Linked DNA regions of Homo sapiens. The protein of the gene in region 1 interacts with the protein of each later gene in a pairwise test. Each region holds a gene or a part of one and is shown on either strand. Other genes may lie near its edges. The genes, in order: CTRC, GIPC2 and VGLL3.

What was found.
Region 2: the proteins of CTRC (region 1) and GIPC2 interact in binary tests that used the Homo sapiens proteins (3 or more experiments, as listed by UniProt).
Region 3: the proteins of CTRC (region 1) and VGLL3 interact in binary tests that used the Homo sapiens proteins (3 or more experiments, as listed by UniProt).

The regions. Positions count from the first base shown.
Region 1 is NC_000001.11:15,434,130-15,441,520, forward strand, and holds the start of CTRC (chymotrypsin-C preproprotein), read left to right. Parts: upstream 1-4,313; 5' UTR 4,314-4,335; coding exon 4,336-4,375; intron 4,376-6,170; coding exon 6,171-6,262; intron 6,263-6,363; coding exon 6,364-6,461; intron 6,462-7,391.
Region 2 is NC_000001.11:78,048,966-78,055,965, forward strand, and holds part of GIPC2 (PDZ domain-containing protein GIPC2), read left to right. Parts: intron 1-7,000.
Region 3 is NC_000003.12:86,988,126-86,996,162, forward strand, and holds the start of VGLL3 (transcription cofactor vestigial-like protein 3), read right to left. Parts: upstream 3,025-8,037; 5' UTR 2,619-3,024; coding exon 2,493-2,618; intron 1-2,492. UniProt on the Homo sapiens protein: May act as a specific coactivator for the mammalian TEFs.

The DNA.
Region 1 (7,391 bases):
GATCATAGCTTACTGCAGCCTCAAATTCCTGGCCTCAAGTAGTCCTCCCACCTCAGCCTCTAGAGTATCTGGGACTACAGGCATGTGCCACCACACCCAGGTAATTTTTTAAATTCTTTTAGAGTCAGGGGTCTCGCCATGTTGCCCAGGCTGGTCTTGAACTCTTGGCCTCAAGGGATCCTCTCACCTCAGCCTCCTGAGTAGCTGGGATTACAGGCACGAGCCACCATGCCCAGCCAGTTTTTAATATTTTTTAAATGGAGAAAGGGGCCCATGAAGGCAAAAGTACTCAGTGACCAAGTCCAGTCTCAAGCTTTCTCATAAGAACCAGATAACAACAATAATAATAGTAATAGCAAACATTTAGACCGTCCTTGCCATATGCCAGGCACTTCTTCCAACAGCCCTAGGAGGGAGGTACCATTTTCTTTCTTTTTCTTTTTATTTTTTTGAGACGGAGTCTTGCTCAGTCACCCAGGCTGGAGTGCAATGGCACGACCTCGGCTCACTGCAACCTCCGCCTCCCGGGTTCAGGCAATTCTCCTGCCTCAGCCTCCCGAGTAGCTGGGATTATAGGCACCCACCATCATGCCCGGCTAATTTTTGTATTTTTGTACAGACAGGGTTTCACCATGTTGGCCAGGCTGGTCTTGAACTCCCGACCTCAGGTGATCTGCCCACCTCAGCCTCCCAGAGTGCTGGGATTACAGGCATGAGCCACCGTGCCCGGCCAAAGGTACCGTTTTCACTCTCACTTTATAAACGAGGAAGCACAGAGAGGTTGCGTCACAAGCATAAGGCCATAGAGCTATGAAGCAATAGTGGTGGGTTTAGTTCAACCCTAAGCAAAGCACTCAACATCCTGTCTTCAGCATCTGAAACAGATTAAGGGCGACCTCGGTTTTCTCCAGGGACAATTGTTTGGTGCTGCCTTACATAAAAGGTCCCTCCCTGTAGATGTCTCAAAACAAGCAAGTTTCCCTATAGCTGAGCAGCCAGCAACCTCCCTCCAAAAAGGTCAGTTTCTCTGTGAACCTTCAAAGAGCTGACAATAACTCTCTTCACCTGGGACCTCATCATCAATCCATTTGGCTATTTCTATGTTTGTGTACATGTTTGAATGGGTGGCCCATGGCTCTGCTTGGCTCTACACATAACCGAATGCTTTATATGTATTATATCATTGGTGTGTGCATATTTGTGGACGTGGAGGAGCGTGTGTGTGCATGTGTGTGTGTGCGTGTGTGCATGTGTGCATATGTGTGTGTATGTTTGTGTGTGCATGTGTGCGCGTGGGTGTGTGCATTGTGTGCATGTGTGTGTGCGTGTGTGTCCATGTGTTTGTGTGCGTGTGTGCATGTGTGCATGTGTGTGCATGTGTGTGTGCATGTGTGTGTGCGTGTGTGTGTATGTGCGTGTGTGCGTCGCCTGTCCACGTATACTTGTGAATCCATGGGCATGTATACACAGCTGAGATGCGTGCTAACAAGTTGCTGTATCTCTGAGTATAAATTGATGAGCTCCTACAAGGAGACGCCCAGTTAATTCATTTTCCCAAGTTGATCAAGGGACATGAGAGAAACTGAGGCTCAAAGAGGTTGCTCAGGGTCTGGGTCATCCATTCTGTCACTGAGATGGAAACCAGGTGTCCTGTCTCCCCGCTTCAGACCCTGCTAATTTCCAAGACCTATCACCTAGCTCAAGCCATATCTCTGCTTATGTTCCCAGTTTCCAGGCTAGAATGACCCTTTGCAAGGCTTGGCAACCAAAAGCCCTGGGTCTGAAGCAGACTGGCCAGTAGCCACTGATAAACCTGTATCATGCACAACCAACCTCCAAAATGAAACAGAAAATTCCCCGCAGGCTGAAGTCCCCAGACACCCCAGGACTGAGGCCTTGATGTCACCATAGCTGAGCAGAGCCCCCAGTGCACATTCCCACTTTTATCTTTCTTAAAAAATTAAACCTATTGATTTTTATACTACCAAGGTAACTATGTTTGTTTTAAAAAAGAATTTAAGCTGCATAAAAATGTGTAGTTAGAGGCCAGGCATGGTGGCTCACACCTGTAATCCTAGCACTTTGGGAGGCCTATGTGAGTGGATCACTTGAGGTCAGGAGTTCGAGACCAGCCTGGCCAACGTGGTGAAACCCCGTCTCTACAAAAGGAACAAAAATTAGCCAGTGGCACTGGTCCCGGCTACTCAGGAGACTAAGTAAGGTAGGAGAATTGCTTGAACCTGGGAGGCAGAGGTTGCAGTGAGCCAAGATCGCACCACTGCACTCCAGCCTGGGCGACAGAGCGAGACTCCAACTCCATCTCAAAAAATAAATAAATAAATAAACAAACCAGCCTGGCCAACATGGTGAAATCCGGTCTCCACTAAAAATACAAAAATTAGCCGGGCATGGTGGTGGACATCTATAATCCCAGCTACTCGCGAGGCTGAGGAAGCAGAATTGCTTGAACCCAGGGGTGGAGGTTGCAGTGAGCTGAGATCGCACCACTGCACTCCAGCCTGGGCCACAGAGCAAGACTCTCAAAAAAAAAAAGTGTAAGTTAGAATCCTCCTTCACCCCCAGATCACCGCTATGAATGGCGGGGTGCGTAGTGCTCTGAACTTTTCTATCAGGAAGGAATTCCTAAGGTGGCCAGTAGGCCCAGCTCAGAAAATGACCTTCAAGGGGAGCTCAGTATGAGTAGAGGGGAAACGAAAGACAGAATCTAACCAACCAGGCTGAGGCCAGGCCTTGGGGCGAATGGATCAAACCACATGTTCCAAGGGATGGCCAACCCCGAATGCCGGAGGCTCTGGTAGAATTTCTGCTACTCAGTGCTTTGGGCCCTCAGATCTGCCACTGACCTTGACATTCAAGTTACAGAATTGTAGAACTGAAAGGAGCCTGAAAGTCCATCTGGTCCTTTTGCCCATTTTAGAGATGGGGAAACTGAGGACCTACAACTAAGCTGACTCCAGGAAGGAATCTGGCCAACTAAGCACCTTCCAGAGCCTGCTGCATCCCTGCCTCCAACCACAGCCCTGGAGGCAGGTGCAGGAGTGCATCAAGCCCAGGCAATTAGAAAGATGAGACAGAGAGAGAGCCAGGAAGCGATCCAATAGCACTAGAAAGGCAGAGAAGGAGCAGCATGTCTCCACAGCTTGAAGCCCCAGGCTGGTGTTAGAAGCTTTGGCTTCAAAGTCTGGCTCTGCTGCTGCCCAGCCGTGTGACCCTAGATGGTCACTTACCCGCTGAGTCTCAGCTTCCTCACTTTTATTTTATTTTTTTAGAGACAAGGTCTTGTTCTGTCACCCGCGCTGGAATGCAGTGTGGCACGATCACGGCTCACTGCAGCCTCGAACTCCTGGGCTCAAGCGATCCTCCTACCTTGGCCTCAGGAGTAGCTGGGACTACAGGCATGCACCACTGCGCCTGGTCCTTTCTCATCTCACCTCAGAGCAGATAACCGCGTCTATTTCATGTTGTTGGAAGAATTAAGTGAGATAATGCAAGAAGAATTGAGCGCAATGCCTGACACACAGTAGGTGCCCAATAAATAACTAAAAAGAATAAGGTAACGGCCTGTAATCACACCTGTAATCCTAGCACTTTGGGAGGCTGAGGTAGGCAGATTGCCTAAGCTCAGGAGTTCAAGACCACCCTAGGCAACAGGGTGAAACCCTGTCTCTACTAAAATACAAAAAAAAAAAAAAAAAAAAAATGGTGGCACACATCTGTAGTCCCAGCTACTTGGGAGGCTGAGACAGGAGAATCGCTTGAACTCGGGAGGCGGAGGTTGTAGTGAGCTGAGACTCCAGCCTGGGTGACAGAGCAAGATCCTGTCTCAAAAAAATAAATAAAATACAAAAGATTAACCTGGCGTGGTGGCAGGCGCCTGTAGTCCCAGCTACACAGGGGGCTAAGGCACGAGAATCGTTTGAGCCCGGGAGGTGGAGGTTGCAGTGAGCTGAGACTGTGCCACTGCATTTCAGCCTGGGCAACAGAGCAAGACTCCATCTCCAAATAAATAAATAAATAGTATAAGGTAGGGAGAGAGAATGAACACACACGTCAAACAGAGTGGGGTGGGGGATGCCAAAAAGCACTGCAACTCAGAATTTTCTGTTTCAGGATATTTGGAAAATCCATACTTCTAAGAAAGCCCTGTCTCCTGCCCAAATTAAACAGTAACCACCCAAGGTCAGGGAAAGGGCCTTATCAGAGCAGGTTTCTCTCCAAGGGGCGGTTTGGCCTTGACCAGGTGCACTCACCTGCTCCTGCCTATAAGTGTGCCCCAGCCCATCCCGATGGTCAGCCAGTCCTGAGCACCTAACCATGTTGGGCATCACTGTCCTCGCTGCGCTCTTGGCCTGTGGTAAGCGGTGGGGTGGGGCTGCAGCTAGCAGGCTGTGAGCTCGGGCTGGCCTCCAGGGCAAGGACGGGATGGGGAGTGGGGGGGCCTCTGCTCTCCAGGTAAGACACTTTGGGGTCCCCTGTGGGTTCAGATGCTACCAACCAGCTGTGTGTCAGACAAGCCACAGCCTGCCTGCCAACTCTGTTTCCACATCTGCAAAACAGGGAAGATGATCTGACGTGTCCCCAGTTAGAAATGAGGTGTGGAAAGCACCACGCAAGGGGGAGGGACACGAGATGCCTCATCCTGGGTTCACCCCAGGGACCATCGGGGTCTGCCTTTCCCAGCATTCTCTCTCCCTTGAGGATTCTCCATTCCATCATTTTGGTGGCGTTTTCCCAGATTAGGAGCCCAGGGACTTAGCTTAAATGCCACTTCTTCTCTGCAGGACCTGGAAAAGTCATTTCACCTCTCTAAATCTCACTAACTTTTTTGGCAAAGGAGAGCACTTAATGAAGAGTCCTTCCAGCTAACAACAACAACAGTAATAATAGCAGCTCCTGTTTCCTGTGTGTTTACTATGTGCCAGACGCTATGCTAGGCCCCTTACATGTAGGAGCCAATTTAATCCTCAAAACAACCTTAAGAGGTAGGGTCTATTGCCAGGCATGGTGGCTCACGCCTGTAATCCCAGCACTTTGGGAGGCCGAGGTGGGTGGATCACTTGAGATCAGGAGTTTGAGACCAGTCTGGCCAACAAGATGAAACCCCGTTTCTACTAAAAATACAAAAATTAGCCAGGCGTGGTGGCGGGCACCTGTAATCCCAACTACTCAGAAGGCTGAGGCAGGAGAATTGCTTGAACCCAGGAGGAGGTTGCAGTGAGCCGAGATCGCGCCATCAAACTCCAGCCTGGGCAACAAGAGTGAAACTCCGTCTCAAAAAAAAAAAAAAAAGAAAAAGAAAGAAAAAGAGGTAGGGTCTTTTCATAGCCCCATTTTACAGATGAGGACATCGAGGTTCCGTGCGACTTAGTATCTTGCCTGACATCACATGGCAGGTTAGTGGAAGAGGCAGAATTTGAGTCCACGTCTGTCTCGCGGAACAGCACGTGTTCTTGACCGCTCCACACAGCTTCCCAGCTATAACAGTGGATTTACTGCTCTCTCACACACACACCATGATGCAGGGGCCTAAAAACAGACAGAAGAACACAGGTGTACCGGGCACTCGCACACATGCCAGCCAGTTTTGTTTTGTTTTGTTTTGTTTTTTGAGATGGAGTTTTGCTCTTATCACCCAGGATGGAGTGCAATGGCACGATCTCGGCTCACTGCAACCTCCATCTCCCAGGCTCAAGCGATTCTCCTGCCTCAGCCTCCTGAGTGGCTGGGATTACAGGCATGCACCACCACGCCTGGCTAATTTCTGTATTTTTAGTAGAGACAGGGTTTCGCCATGTTGGCCAGGCTGGTGTCAAACCCCTGATCTCAAGCGATCCACCCGCCTTGGCCACCCAAAGTGCTGGGATTACAGGTGTGAGCCACCGTGCCCGGCCAAACGCTTTCTTTTTTATGTGTTGTCTAATTCAGTTCTCAGGGCAAACTCACCGCATTAGTGTGATTCTTCACATTTCACAGAAAGGGAAAACAAGGCCTAGAGACCTGGGTGGCTTACCCCCGTGACACAGTAAAATATCAACCCCGTGTCTGCCCAGCCCCAACTCTGTGCTTCTTCCACCTGCCCACCCTCCCACCCCTTTCCCCGTGGGCTACCAGCCCTATTCACTGGTTCTTCTGGCCTCCTGTCTCCCCAGCCTCCAGCTGTGGGGTGCCCAGCTTCCCGCCCAACCTATCCGCCCGAGTGGTGGGAGGAGAGGATGCCCGGCCCCACAGCTGGCCCTGGCAGGTAAGCCTGTGTAGGGCTGGGAGGTACAGATAGAGAGGGTGGCGGGGTGAGGGTCCCAGGGACCTGCAGGCTGACACACAGCCCTCCCCACCCTCCTGCAGATCTCCCTCCAGTACCTCAAGAACGACACGTGGAGGCATACGTGTGGCGGGACTTTGATTGCTAGCAACTTCGTCCTCACTGCCGCCCACTGCATCAGGTGTGCGGGGATGATACCCTGAGACCTGGCCATCGTCCGGGGGCGGAAGCCTGATACTCTGCTTTTTCTGAGCAGCTTCTCCGCACTCCAGGCACTGGGCTACATAATCTACTCACACCCAGTAACTCAGTTGTGCATTTAGTCAGTCAAGTATTCATTGTGCATCTATTATGTGCCAGGAACCAGCAGTGAAGACAAAGTCTGTGCTCTCGGGAAGCTTATATTTTTGTGGAAGACAGAGCGGCAGACAATTAAACAAATATATAGCATCTCAGGTGATTTAAAATAATACTAATAATAAGGTATTGGCCAGGAGCAGTGGCTCACGCCTGTAATCATAGCACTCTGGGAGGCCGACGCAGGCGGATCACCTGAGGTCAGGAGTTCGAGACCAGCCTGGTCAACATAGTGAAACCCCGTCTCTACCGAAAATACAAAAATTAGCCAGGCGTGGTGGCGGGCACCTGTAATCCCAGCTACTCGGGAGGCTGAGGTAGGAGAATCACTTGAACACGGGAGGCAGAGGTTGCAATGAGCCGAGATGGCGCCACTGCACTCTAGCCTGGGCAACAGAGTGAGACTCTGTCTCAAAAAAATAAAAAATAAAAATAAGGTCAGAAGAGGACAAACAGAATGAGGGGTTCAGTTTTAAAAGGGATGGCCAGGGGAAGAGCTGAAAGGGGGATATTTGGCAAATATTTGGGACATTTCGGAGAGCTAAAAGGGGGTTATTTGGGCAAAGGCCTGAAGGAAGTGAGGGAGGAAATCATGGATCTAGGAGAAGGGTGTTCCAGGCGGAGGGAACAGCCATGCAAAGCCTTGGAGGAGAGACCTGTCAGTATGGTTGAGAAATAACGCGGAAGCCGGTGTGGCAGGGGCAGCGTGTGCTAGAGGAGAGTGGGAGGTGAGCTAGAGAGGAAATAAGTGCAG
Region 2 (7,000 bases), about 63 Mb from region 1:
CTGGATTAGAAAAAGTTAATTATATGCAGAATAAAGTATTGGTCATCATAGCATAGTACGCATAATATTTCAGTGGTTCACTCTGAAACAGAAGTAACTCACTAAAATGAAATGCACACCAAGGAGATTCCATTTTCATAGCCCATTTCCCCAGCAAGCAATTACCTCAGCAATAATGATGTAAACAACTTTTTTTGGTTGGTTTTTGTTTTTTGAGATGGTGTCTTGTTCTGTCGCCCAGGCTGGAGTGCAGTGGCACGATCTTGGCTGACTGAAACCTCCACCTCCTGGGTTCAAGTGATTGTCCTGCCTCAGCTTGCCTAATAGCTGGGATTATGCACCACCATGCCTGGCTAATTTTTGTGTTTTTAGTAGAGACGGGGTTTCACCATGTTGGCCAGGCTGGTCTTGAATTGATATCCTGACCTCAGGTGATCTGCCCGCCTCGGCCTCCCAAAGTGCGTGAACCACCACGCCCAGCCCTGTGATGTAAATAACTTTTGAGATGTCAGTGGGGACAAAAACATTTGCCCCCCTTAATGGGATTGAATAGATAGTTAACTCAGAAGTCCTGCCTTTTTTCTAGAGTGGTGGCTGTAAGGATATAAATAGCACTACATGAAGAGCTAGCCACTCTTTATTGAGGAGAAAGGGAAAAGACTTGATGTCAAGTGGAGCAGATAATCAGGGCCCATAATGTGCCCACAGCTGTGCTAGGCCTGTAAGCCTACAGTGTGTTCACTCCATCCTCACCAGAATCTTTTCATTTTACAATTTAGTGAAGTGAGACTCTGAGAAGTTAAATAGGCTGGTATGTGGCTGAGCCAGGATTTGAATTCTGGTTTCCTGGTTCTAAGTCTATTACATAGCAGCTGTGAGATTCTTGGTAGCTGCATTCAAATTCCAAATACGAACCCAGAAAAACCTCTTTTTTTTTTTTTTTTTTTTTGAGATGGAGTCTAGCTCTGTCGCCCAGGTTGAAGTGCAACGGTGTGATCGTGGCTCACTGCAACCTCCGCCTTCTGTGTTCAAGTGATCCTCCTGCCTCAGCCTCCTGAATAGCTGGGATTACAGGCACACGCCATCATGCCTGGATAATTTTTGTGTTTTTGTAGAGATGGGGTTTCACCATGTTGGCCAGGCTGGTCTCAAACTCCTGACCTCAGGTGATCCGCCCACCTCGGCCTCCCAAAGTGAGCTGGGATTACCGACGTGAGCTACTGCACCTGGCCGGTTCCAAGTCTATTACATAGCAGCTGTGAGATTCTTGGTAGCTGCATTCAAATTCTAAACACTAACCTGGAAAAACGTCTTTTGTAAACAAATTTTTTTTTTCAATAAAAGCCTCAGACTTAACCACAAAAATATTTATTGCCTCAAAAAGATGTTGATGTGAGACTGACAGTTGTGGACTTCAGCTAGTGTTTTGTGGTCCCTGAAGGAATAAGCTAATGAAGGCTGTGAATCAGTTAAGATTTGTTATTAAGTTGAGACAGATGGCCAGTTATGCAAAAATCCCTCATATCTGATGCCTTTTTTCAAAACAATTAAATGAACAATTCAGTAAAAAGAAAAAAAACCCTGTAAATTAATCTCATCTAAAGAACAATTAACTCCTACATAAATGCAAAGACTCTTCTTGAGAAAGTTTAATACATACCATCTTTTTTTTTTTTTCTTTTTTTTGTGACGGGAGTCTCGCTCTGTCGCCCAGGCTGGAGTGCAGTGGTGCTATCTCAGCTCACTACAAGCTCCGCCTCCTGGGTTCATGCCATTGTCCTGCCTCAACCTCCTGAGTAGCTAGGACTACAGGTGCCTGCCACCATGCCCGGCTAATTTTTTGTATTTTTAGTAGAGGCAGGGTTTCACTGTGTTAGCCAGGATTGTCTCGATCTCCTGACCTTGTGATCTGCCCGCCTCAGCCTCCCAAAGTGCTGAGATTACAGGCGTGAGCCACCGTGTCCGGCCAATACATACCATCTTTTAAAATATCCAGGTTACATGAAACTCTCGAGCTATGGTCATACATTTTGTTGAAGGGGCATTTTGAATATTTGACTACTGTAATTGTTTGGCAAGTAGTTTTTACCATGATATATTTTCCTAATTCTCTATTATGTGGAAATATTGTAGGAAAAAATAATGAATGTGAAAACTTAAGAAAAGACGTATAATAAAAAAAAGAACCCCACTTTGCTCAATACATTCATTTTGTAAAATGTAAAAAAAAAAAGAAATGATGTCATCATTATTGATCCTTGGACATTAAAAGAATAACAAAGAAATATTATTAACAAAAAAAAGATAAATTTTATAGTTAGAAATTTTACATGTCCAGAAACTGGAAATTCAGATGCAGTTTCTCTGCAGAATTCAGAAATTACTTCCTTTTACTTGTTTAGATTAGTTTGCGTGTGATATTAGATACCAAATAGTTCATTGAATAATAAATGAGTAATTCAGTGACTTATTCTCTCCCCATACATAAAGCAGTCAAAGAAAGCAGAGTACTTGAGAAGCAGAAAAGGCAAGAAGTGTTATTCTTTTTTTTTTGAAATGGAGTCTCACTCTGTTGCCAGGCTGGAGTGCAGTGGTGTGATCTCGGCTCACTGCAACCTCTGCCTCCCGGGTTCAAGTGATTCTCCTGCCTCAGCCTCCTGAGTAGCTGGGACTACAGGTGCATGCCACCATGCCCAGCTAATTTTTGTATTTTTAGTAGAGACGGGGTTTTGCCATGTTGGCCTGTCTTGAACTCCTGACCTCAGGTGATCTGCCTGCCTCGGCCTCCCAAAGTGCTAGGATTACAGGCATGAGCCACCGCACCTGGCGTAGAATTGTGATTTTTAAGGTGAGATTTTATCCTCACAAGCATGCTGTTATTTCTCTTAAACAGACAAACCTTCTTTTGACACCTGTTCCCATCCCCTGTATTACCACCTCATTTCTCCTTTTTAGCAAAACTCTTCAAAAGTTGCTGTCTCTGAGATACAATTTGTATCTCATTTTCTGCTCTAAACCTTTCATGGCTTCCCCTCTCACTTGGAACAAACCAAAATACTATGATGGGCTACGGGCTCTGTTACCTCTTCAGAATCGTTGTTCCTTCTGCTCCAGCCAGACTGGTCTCCTTGAATGCTGGAGCCTTAAGACTTTTGCATTGGTTTTTGCCTCCGCCAGAACCTCTTCCTACAGAATGCCCTTCCTTAAGTCTGTTCAAATGTCATCTTCTTGGTGAGGCTAGCACTGATCATCTCTAGGTGCAACACTCCCTGTTCCCTTCTCTGCTTAATTTTTCTCCGTAGCATACTATCCTATGTATATTTAACTTATTTTGTTTATGGTCTGCCCCCTTGCCCCAATAGAAGCTCCACAAAGGCAAGGATTTTTGTCTTTGTTTACTGATGTGGCCCTCAAGGGCCTAGACTTTGCCTGAAACATATTATAGTTGGAGTTTAAAAAATAGTTGTTGAATAAAAGGATCCTCACCAATTCAGTAGTTAAAACCTAGTGTCTTTAGCATAAAGCTTTAGTATTGATTACAATACTAATATCTTATGTAGGTGTTAATTTTTTTTATGTTCTGCTATGAGGAAAGAGACTAGCCTTTAGGTGGGGGTAGTGAGGAACATCACTCATATCTTTAAAATTTTTTGAAAATAAATGTATATATTTAAGGTATACAACACGATGTTTTGATATAAATAGTGAAATAATTATTACAGTCAAGCTAATTAATATATCCATCTTAGAAACTATGAAATTTGAGGCTCTGTTTGCAAGCATAGTCACTTCCTAAATGAGTTACAGCATATGAGGAGCTGCTTCCTGAGGCTTCCCAGAAGCTGCTTCCTTTTCTCAACTTGCTGACACTAGCACTGAGCTCTTTTGAAAGTCAATATTCTGTATTTATGTGGTACTTCTAGAAGACATGAAATGTTCTGCAGACTTTATCATTTCCCAGCAGTGCAAATAACTGGCAAGTGGAACTGTTATCTTTCTGGTTCACAAATGGGAAACTAGGACGAATAGAGAAAATAGGGTTTTACTGATTTGCATATAGCACCCCCTGCCCTGGAAAAACAAGTTACAAAAATCTACAAAAAATGAAAGAATTGGGAATTGGGTGTGAATATTACTATTGAGGTCTGAGGAATATGAAGTAAGCCCGTCAAAATTGAGTAGAAAAAGTGTGAGAAGCAGTCCCTGACATCTGGTAGGGGCCTTGGCACTTGCAGGAAGGCCTTGGCATTCTGTTGCACATAAACAATTGCACAGCATGTCAACAGCAGATAAGACTGCTCTGACTGTGGTAATTTCTCCTACCTTACAGATAGGTTTACTAAGATTCCTGGTCATAGAATTGCACCCATTTCCTGACAGCACCCTATCCAGAACAAACCCATGCTTTGGACCCTCTCCCAAATCACCTAACACAAGCCCAAATCCTTTGTAATGTCTCTTTCTGAAACCCCCAGGATTTCCCATAGAGTGCTGTCACCCTCCTCACAAGGAGCAATAAACTGCAGGTGAGAATCCCTGGTGGTCTTTGCCTGGAAGGTGTTGGCAGTTGTCACTTGTCACTGTTGGGTTATTACAATGCAGATTCTAAAGAGGCAGCCTGAATTTGGTTTCCCTGACTCCACTCATCCTCTTTTAGTATTTTAATGCTGTGATCATACCAGTCTAATCTTAGCACTTTGGAAGGCTGAGAAGGGAGAATCCTTGAAGCCAGGAGTTTGATTGACAACAGCCTGGGCAACATAGTGGTACCCTGCCTCTTAAAAAAAAAAAAAAAAAAAAGCCAAAAAAAAAAAAATTAGCCAGAGGTGGTGGTACGTACCTGTAGTCCCAGTATTCAGGAGGCTGAGGTGGGAGGATCACTCAAGCCGGAGTTTGAGGCTGCAGTGAGCTATGATTGTGCTGCTACACTCCAGCCTGGGCAACAGAGCAAGACTGTCTAAACAAACAAAAACCTGCAAGGGGCTCCTCATTACTTACAAACCAATTACTACCAGCCAAACAATGTCTCATATTCCTGTCTGCCTCTTGAGTCCTCTCCTATGCCCACTGTTCCAATCTCACTTCTTAATAATCCCCTTTACATTCAACAATATTTAACTGTTTCATTCCATTGTGCTTTTTCTCATGCTGTTCTTTGTTCCAGTAACTCCTACTCACTTTTCTAGTCCTGTAATTTCCTCCAAGAAGCCTACCCTGTGAATCCAGAAATCTGGATACCTGCTATTGCATGATTTTTAACATAGCATTTGCACATAAGATTGAATTTAGTTACTCCTCTGTTTCTTCCTGAGGGCTGGGACTTTTTTCCTTTTTAAATCTTGTTCTTAGATGGTTAGCTAGATGGTTTAGCTGCTCCTTAAAAGTTTACTAAATAAAAGTAGATAATGGATATAGTAGGAGAGAAAGCTGAGGATATAGATAGTAGTAAGACTACAAATGTCCTTGAAGTTGTATGGATTTTATTCTGTAGGCAATGAGAATAACTCAGATCTTTTTCGGAAGAAGCAAGGATCCCTGACACATATTTTACAAAGTAGAAGCACACTCAACCATTCATTCTCTGTATTTTCTTTCTAAATAATATTCAGTTTAAATGGAATATAATGGTATTTTCTGGATTTACATCATACCATCTGAGAAGTTATAAATATATCACAGTCATTATGTAGGCTTGATATCCCCTCCTGAGCACCAGCCTCATTTTTATATGAAAAATTCAGGCAAGAAAAACATGACTCATTTTGAGAAGTGGGAGGAGAATCCAACCAGCTGCCTTATAGACCTCATTGCTGTCAGGAGGGTATGAAATGGATAAGACTGCTGTTGTGCTAGAAGTACCCTGAAGAAGATATCTGAACAACCCTAAAATAAAGTTTACACCCTTGGGCAGGGGTAGACTCCTCTTCAAACCCTGGCTACCTGTAGGTTAATAGCCAGCCCCTTCACATTCTCCCACCTGCAATCACCAACCCAGCTACCCTGAGTGGAGTGGAAGGCTCTTGCAGGTTATCTTGGGCAATTTGTATGTATGTATATGTCTGTCTGGCTGCTGTAACAGACTATCAAAAACTGAGTTGCTTCTAAACAACAAAAATTTATTGACTGGGAAGTCCTAGATTGATGTGCCGGCCATGTGGTATCTTGTGGGAGCCCACTTCCTGGTTCATAGACAGCCATCTTGTTGCATCCTCATGTAACAGAAGGGGAAAGGGAGCTCTCTCTAGGGCCTCTTCTATGCAGGCACTAATCCTATTCCTGAAGGCTTGACCCTCATGACCCAGTCACCTCCCAAAGACCCCACCTCCAAATACCGTCACCTGGTAGGAGGTGGGGGATTAGGCTTGGGGACACACACATGTTCAGTCCATATAAATATTTATATTAAAATGTATAGGGAGGTAAGGAAGCTTAGGACAGCTTCTGCAGCTGCACAGTCAGGTTCCATGGACAGTTGGAACGTTGCTCATTCTGTTCAGGTTAAAGCAGTAGCTTTATACTGTAGAGAACTGAGAGCAAGTCTAGTTGTCCTTAACCTTCCATCTCAGCCTCTCTCTCTCCCTGCTTATTCTACTTTTGACTGATTCTTTCTTCTCATCCTCTTGACTTTGCTCCTCCCATTATTACCTCACCCCACTGTGTCTTTGTGTTTCTTTACCTCTCTACTTTCTGTGCCCTGCCTGTGTATCTTATTAAACTTCCTAAGAAAGAGTCTTTGTTGTGTCAGGGTACAGCACAGGTGGGACAGGACCCTTGGGCCTGTGGGTCAGGTTCATCTCTGCTCCAGCCTACAGGGTCATGTGGTACAGAGGTAGGTGAGCAGTGGATAAGGAGTCCTGCAGGAGAGAGCTATGCACATGGTAGATATTCTGAGACATCTTGATTTAGGGGAACGTAAATGGCAGACACCTTCCATGGCCTGTTTAGAAAACGAAAGTATTTTCCGTTCTCTATGACCTTTATGCATTGTTCTCTTTATCTG
Region 3 (8,037 bases), on another chromosome or scaffold:
TACAATTGAATACAGAAGTAATATAAAACTTTAATGCTGTCTTTTCTAGCATTTTTTAAATGGCTATTAAAATTTCTTGATTGCTGTTACTTTTCTTCGCTCCTTTTCCATTTTTTCCTTCTCCAAAAATCAATTTTTCAAATTCAGTAGGAGTTGTAGCCCTTACTTTTGTCTCCCAGGCAAGATGCTATTAGGGGTCACTTCCCATGTACGGAGAAAACAATCTTCATGGATAATAATGATAAAACCTTATGGAATGCAAAAACAACCAAAATATGTATTCTCGGATGACTGCATTAGGGCCAAGTCAATATTAGTCCCACTTCACCCACGCATTGCATAGTCTAAAAATGCTGTCAGCCTGATAAGAATTTCCTGATTTACTCTCTTTTCCAATAGAAAATGTAGGTCATCAAAATAAACTTCTGACACTAAAAGAACAGTAGTTACACTGTCAAGTCTTTTTTTTTTTATTTCGTTAGCCAGTTATGGTCAAACAGTTTCTTTACTTGACCAAAAAAAAAAAAAAAAAAAAAAAAAAAAAAAAAAAAAAAAAAAAAGAAGAAGAAGAAGGAGAAGAAAAAGAAGAAAAAGCAACATGAAAATTTCCAAGCACCTCCCTATGGCTCACTCAGCCTAACATCTAGTTAAGCAATGTCTACAAAAGCCCAAAATATAGAAGTTGATCATTATGTAACCAATCAATGTAGATAAATTGTTTTCTTTTTAAGAAGCTCAATGGTCAGAGTTTTCCTGATTTTTATTTTATTTTATTTTTTACTTTTTAAAATTGTTGTCTTCAGTATGTTGACGGTTTTAGCAAAAGAAATGAATTTGGGGACCGAGTCTCAGGGCTATTGCAAACATTATATAAAGTACTGGAGTCATTTCTTATTGAAAACTTTTATGATTGGCAATTTGCCATTTTCTCTGATACCGAATGTTATTTTCTAGCTCAAAAAAAAGTGTTACAGTATTAACTCCACACCACAGATTCATTAATTTCACAACCCTAAAAAATAAAGCCATATTTGAAACAACTTCTACTAGTTTGTTATTTTATAAAGGAGGAAAGTATCTTTCTGAACATGTAGAGAAGTTTTAGTTTGTTGCTCATCCACATTCCAAATGATAATTGAAGACCTCTGTAATATCAGAGATGCTTTGAAATGCTGGTGCTGCTGAATATTTTTTTTAAGAGGATAGCAAGAAAGTAGGGCTCCTTCCTCTTTTGCCCTAATTGGTTCTGGTTAAGCTGGTACTATTTAGCAGATGAATCTGGGGCATGTACCCTTCCAGAATTAGCTGAATTTCATAGTTCCTAAATTCTAAACGGAAAGTTAGATTTCTTTCTAAAGAGTAGCACTGTAATTCTAGCAAAGAGACAGAAGTAGAGGAAATACAGAAAGTAAAATGTCAGATTAATTAACAGCCCAAACCTAAGAAGGTTTGCAATAAAACATGTGGTACCTAAGAAAGTAAAAAGAAATAAATCAATATATTCTATGGATGGTAATTTCCTAACCAAATCTAGTTATTTTTTTTAAGTTTCTCCAAATCCGCCCACCCTAATTCCCATAGTCTGAGGTGGACTCTATTTTGGTACAGCCCTTGCCACATACATTTTTTATTTTAATGTAGCACTAACTAAGCCTTGGCACACTCTCCGTTGTATCCAGAGAGTAATGTCCAAGGGCGCCTCGTGCCAAATTCCCCAGAACTCTACTGTTCCTTCTAAAGTAACTATATCATCTCCTCAGTTCACGACCCCTTATTATGGACATCTTCAGTTACTCTTGGAAGAGTGGAGACTCAGCATCCAGAGATTCAAGGTAACCTTTTGGCCGAGGGACCCACTGTCAACAGACTGAACACGTACAAACTCTGTGCTTTGCTGGAATTAAAAAATGAATGAAGAACCTTGGAATCCATCCCTGTCCTCTAAGTCACAGTCACCGGGAGAAAGATTCTGTGGAGAAGTTCTAGTAACACCCGATAGACATTATGCTAGACCAGTGTTCCCCCATGAAAGTCCCAGATCATTTCGTGAACTCACTCTCCAGGTAGCTTCCCCTACCTCTGTCAGCGCACTTCATCTTCCTCATCAATAAAACCCTGAAACATTCCATCTTTCCAAATAAACAAAATAGTTGGTTGAAAGGAAGTTTACTCACATGGTCCTAAGATAGATGCCCTTGGTGAGCTTCAGAGAACTGAGTCCTAAGAGCTAGGGTGCCTAGGAGGAGCAGCCTCTGAGCTCCGGTGACCACAGCTCAATGAAGCCCCCAGCTAGGTCATGCCTCACCCACCCGTCCACCCTGCTGCTCTCCCTTCCCGGCTCTCTCGGGATGGCTTTCTGCTCAAGGACGCTCCCGCAGATCCCAGAGCATCCTCTGCGCCACGCGTGCCGGCGGGACGTCGCCGAGCCCCAGACCGATACTCTCGATGCCCTTCGCCCCCGCCCCCAGCAGGCTGCCCGTCCGGTGACTCACCTGCTGGCCAGGTTGGGGCGCCGGCTGATAGTAGGCTGTGGGGCAGGTTGTCGCTGCCATGGGGTTGGGCAGATACTGGGACGCTCCATAAGGCTGGGGGTGATACATCACCTCCGCACAACTCATGGCAGCCGGGGCAGTGGCGGCCCCCGAGCTGCCGCCGCCGCTCTACGCGCTGGCGCGAGGGGCGCGGGCGCCGCCGCCGCCGCAGCTGCCGCCTCTGTCGCTGCTCCAGCTGCTACTGCGGCGAAGGCGGGTCCTCGGCGGCCTCGGGCTCCGCGCGGGGCGCGGGGTCGGGAGGGACTGGCAATCAGCGGGGGCCCATGCGCGGGCACCTTCATCTTCAGCCCCTCCGGATGTTCCCTGCCGCGCTTATATAGCGGCTCAGGGACGCAGCCGCCCGCTGCGCCGCTGGGGCATTACCGCGTCCGGCTCCCGCGAGGGCTGCGGCGCCCACGGCAGCGCCAGTCACAGCCACAGCCCAGGCCCGGGTCGGGCAGCCGTGGGGAGCCCAGCTCCGGTTTGCATATACACAATGCACGCCCGGGGCTCGTCCTATCACGGGTGCTCCCGGCTGTGCGAGGACAGGGAGGCGGGGGCAGAGGGAGGGGGAACGCCGGGGAGAAGGGGGAGCACTTTGCCTCCCCAGGCTCTGACGCGGAACTTTGCAAAGTTTCTCCAACTCGCTTTGCAGCGGGCGGGTCACCCTGCAGGGGGACCCCGGGGAAGGCTGGCTGCGGATTGGAGCGAAGTTTGCAGCCCTCTCCGCCTCCCAGCATGGGATGGTGGTGGGAGGGGAATGGTATGCAGAGGCTCCGCGCCCTCAAGGCTCGGCAGGTTCCCACCCTGTCTCTGTCACCTGGCCGCCAGGGCGAGGGCTTCCCTACTCCAAGGAGATTTTACAGGGAACACCAACTCAGAGGCTGGGACCAAACAAAAGCCGAGTGTACAAAGGGGTAAAACAGAGCAGGCGCAGAATACACGGGGATTAGCTCCTACATTAAAATAATCATAAGTGAAAGTTAACATCTCTGCAAGTGCCCACATGCCAAGAATGCAACACAGTTTTCCACAAGCAATCTCTGCTTTAAGTTTACATCTTCATGGTATGACACTGCTGTGAGACGTCCACCATTTCTGGCTTTTACAGCCTGGTTTTCACAGAGCAATAAAGGGTAGTTGATTAAGCCCATTCGCTAATAAAGGTTTATCTCTTTGCAATTGGATCTGACCCTCTCCAAAATGGGGAAAAAAACGTCTGTGAGAATATACTTGTATTCTGACATAATCAGTAGAAATAATTATACTCACATTATTTTATTTATTTTGAGATAGGGTTTCCTTCTGCCGCCCAAGCTAGAGTACAGTGACATGAGCACAGCTCACTGCAGCTACCACCCCCACGCTCAAGAGATCCTCCCATCTCAGCCTCTGGAGTAGCTGGGACTACAGGCGTGCATTACCACGCCCAGGTAATTTTTTTAATTTTTTTTTTTATAGAGAAGGGGTCTTGCTATGTTACCTAGGCTGGTCTCCAACTCCTGGCCTCAAGTGATCCTTCTGCCTCGGTCTCCCAAAGTGCTGGGATAACAGGCATGAGGCACCGCACTGGGCCTCATTTTATAAATGAGCAAACTCTAGCTCTGAGATTCAGCAAACATATCTCTCCTTATACGTAGGCATCCTCTTTTATGACTCACAGCAATCTCTCATTTTTACAGTCTATCTTTTCTCAGAGAAAAAGTCAGTTTGAAAGTCAAATGCACTAATGTTTTTATAGTTTGAATTATGTCTTCCCAAAAATGTATATATTGAAGCCCTAACCCACAATATGGCTGTATTTGAAGACAGGACATATAAGGAGGTGATAAGGTTAAATGAGATTTAAAAGGTTGGGCCCTAATCTAATAGGACTAGGTTCCTTATAAGAAGAGAAAACACGCCAGAGATATCTATGTCTCCCCCAAACCCCACTCCCTGTCTCTCTGCTCTGTCAAAGAGGAAAGACCATCTGAAGTCATAGTGAGTTACCTACAAGCCAAGAAGAAAGGTCTCACCTTGAAACCAACACTGACCACACCTTATCTTGTGCTTCTATCCTCCAGAACTATGAAAAAATTAACTTTTTTTTTTTTTTTTTTTTTTTGAGACGGAGTATCGCTCTGTTGCCCAGGCTGGAGTGCAATGTCACGATCTCGGCTCACTGCAACCTCCTCCCGGTTCAAGTGATTCTTCCGCCCCAGCCTCCCGAGTAGCTGGGATTACAGGCACCCGCCATCATGCCCGGCTAATTTTTGTACTTTTGTAGAGACAGGGTTTCACCATGTTGGCCAGGATGATCTTGAACTCCTGACTTCAGGTGATCCGCCCACCTCGGCCTCCCAAAGTACTGGGATTACAGGCGTGAGCCACGGTATGCCCAGCTTAATTTGTTTTTTTAGGCCACCTAGTTTGTGGTATTTATGACAGCCCTAGCACACTAATGCAGATATACAGTTATCATATATCGTTAATGTTTACATAAGTGTCTGTGTGTATGTCTAGGTACACAGATACATACACATGTATAAACACACAGGCATACACACACACACTGACACTATAAAAATTGGATAGGAACTTTTTGCTACGCCGCAACAGCTTTTATTCAATCATTTTATCACTGAATATTAAAAACATATTTATTAAGGGTTTGCACAGTTCTTGGACTTTAAATTGTGCTCTTTGTAGTACAAGAGTATTTCCAGCAATAATATGTTTCATAATTTACTTTAAACGTTTATTATTGTCTTTTCCCAAATTGACCTCCTTTGATCAGATCCCTTCCTGTGTTCCAGATTTATCTATTCAGTTCTTTCTAGGTAGCTCCACATAGGTGTTACATAAGGACCTCAATCCTAATAGTACTGATTGTCTCATGTCCCCAGTTTGATCCTCTTTTTTAATCTTCATCTCTACTGAAACTCCCCCACTACCAGTTGTCCCAGCTAGAAATGTGGGAATCTTCTGGCACTCCTTCCTTCTCCTCACAGTCCCCACACCTGGTCTTGGAGTCAAGTTGACCCCAAATTTTCCATTTCTACTGACTCTCTCCTTATCTCTGTTGCTATAATCGTTAGTTTGCTCGGCATCTCTCACTCAGACTCCTGCAAGAGACTCTTAGTGATTTCCGGGTCCCAAGGCGAGACTTCTTCCTGTTCTTCATAGTTTATACTACTCTTTAATGACCCAGCCACTGCAAATCCAACTGTGCAATGATGATTCATTCTTCTTTTAAAAATTTCACAGTCACATCCCGCAGTCTGTAGAAACAACTCTTTAACCTTCAGATTCTGATCCCTGCCCATGTCACTACCTCCTGCAAATGTTTACCAGCTATCTGAATTGAGATCTGCATTCTGCGAAGAAGCCGTGGTACTTTCTACCAGCATGTCATTTTACATATGAGCAGAGCATTTGCACCAACACATCCCTCACCCTCTTCACTTGTTAACTCCTTCTTGCTCTTCATGTAATTGTCTTCCAAAACATCCGATGAGGATCAGCTTTAATGCTCCTATTTTCACCAGCTCTTGTTCTTTTAAGAATACGCTCCCATCATACTAATAATTAACTACTTGATTTGAAGTTGCTTATTTGCTTGTTTCCCCAATATGACCATGGCTGCTTGAGAGGAGAGACTGTGACTTTTATCTCTAAATTTCACTAAATTTCAATCATATGATATCTGGCTTAGTAAATATTCTTTGAATAAGTAAAGTATATAATAGGAGGAGAAACAAAAACTATTAGAATAACTTACAAATTCTTGGTGGGATCTGAGCACATATAAAATCAGTGAAGCTATAATGTAGAATATGATTTCAAACTCTGTCTTAGGCTTTCTGCTGTATGTTAGATTGAGAAAATCCTTATGATGTTAAAAAAAAATAGGACCTAGAATATAAAGTGACTGAATTAGGACACAGAGCAAATTTGTGAGGACAGCCACTTCTCAATGCCAAACCTCCTGTTCAAATGTTTAATGCCTCCAACTTTTTTCAAATAACTTTTATCTGTAGTTGATTTTTTTGTACAATTATGAGTTTAATATCTGTCTTTTTAGCTAGACTTTGGCAGAGGTTATTTATATCTTGTTCATCTCCATATCTAACACTTCGAAGACATTCTATATATATTTTCCAAATGATAAAATAAAGCCAGAACTTGATTCAACATGTCCATACCCCTCATTGCTGCATCTTCCGTGCTCCCTATGGCCTCTAGTGCAAATATTTATTCTATGACAAAAAAAAGTTATTTGGTACTAATACGTCATGGACACAAAAGTCTGTAGGTGTTTGGCAAAATCTTCCTACAATGCAATATCTTTTTTGATACCTTTCTTTGTTTCTATATTGTGTACTGCTGGAAGAAGATAAGAGAGTAAAGATTAATTCTACCTAGACTTAGAATCTACAGAAGTGGACAGAGAGAGAAAATAGCTTGTCAAAGCCTGCAGTCTTAGTGAGGTCATTAATAAAAATTCCGATAATTCATGTTAGGGAAATCTACATTTGAGTTCTAGTAGGAAAGCAGATGTACCTGACTTCCCCTGGGTAACTATTTAGGGTTTTAAAGTGGAAAATAATAAAAAGGATCATCAAGCTTAAAACATCCTTTTTCATAGATAAGTAAATATATGATCTGATTAATGTCTTCTAGGGAACTAGTGGCAGAACTAAAACCAAAGTCCTGTTTCTCTTGACTCTTGATTTAGTTCTCTTTCCATAATTGCATAATAAAGATATATAAACAAATACATATGCATATGTATATGCATACATACATTATACATGTGTGTACATATTCCTAGATATTACTTATGTATGTGTGTATATATATATTATATATATAATATATATTATACATATATTATATATAATATATATAATATATATTATATATAATATATATATAATATATATTATATATAATATATATATATACACACACACACACACACACACACATACATATACAAAGGAAGAAGTTTTTGATCAGATCGTCCTTGGGTCAACTTGGAGTTGAAGAAGAGGAGTGTGTGTATGGGGTGGGGATGCGGGCCAATTGCATTTAGCAAGAGTGAGTCACTCAGATCAGAGAATGTGATCTGACCGCTGGTGTACTCATTGTCGTCTCTGCTATGTAAGGGTGTCACAATTACTTGGAAAAAGCAGCAATGGTATGGAATTTAATTCTATGTAGTTCTGAGCTAAAGTTCCTCAAAGTTTACCCTTCTTTGATTTATCCTTTTACACTACTCCACCGCTTTTCTGGTTCAATTCTGATGTGGTACCTGATCTAAATAAATGGACTTAAACATTTCCAACTCTTCTGAATTGTGACTTTACAGTCACTACATTTTTGCCCCCACCACCAAATTTCTCAAAATGTTTGTTTCCAAATTCTCCAACTGGAAATTAGTGAGGTGAACCACCCCCCGCCTCTAGTTTTATTTGGAGGGATAACTTGAAGTGGGTTTTCCTAATATATTTTGGAATAA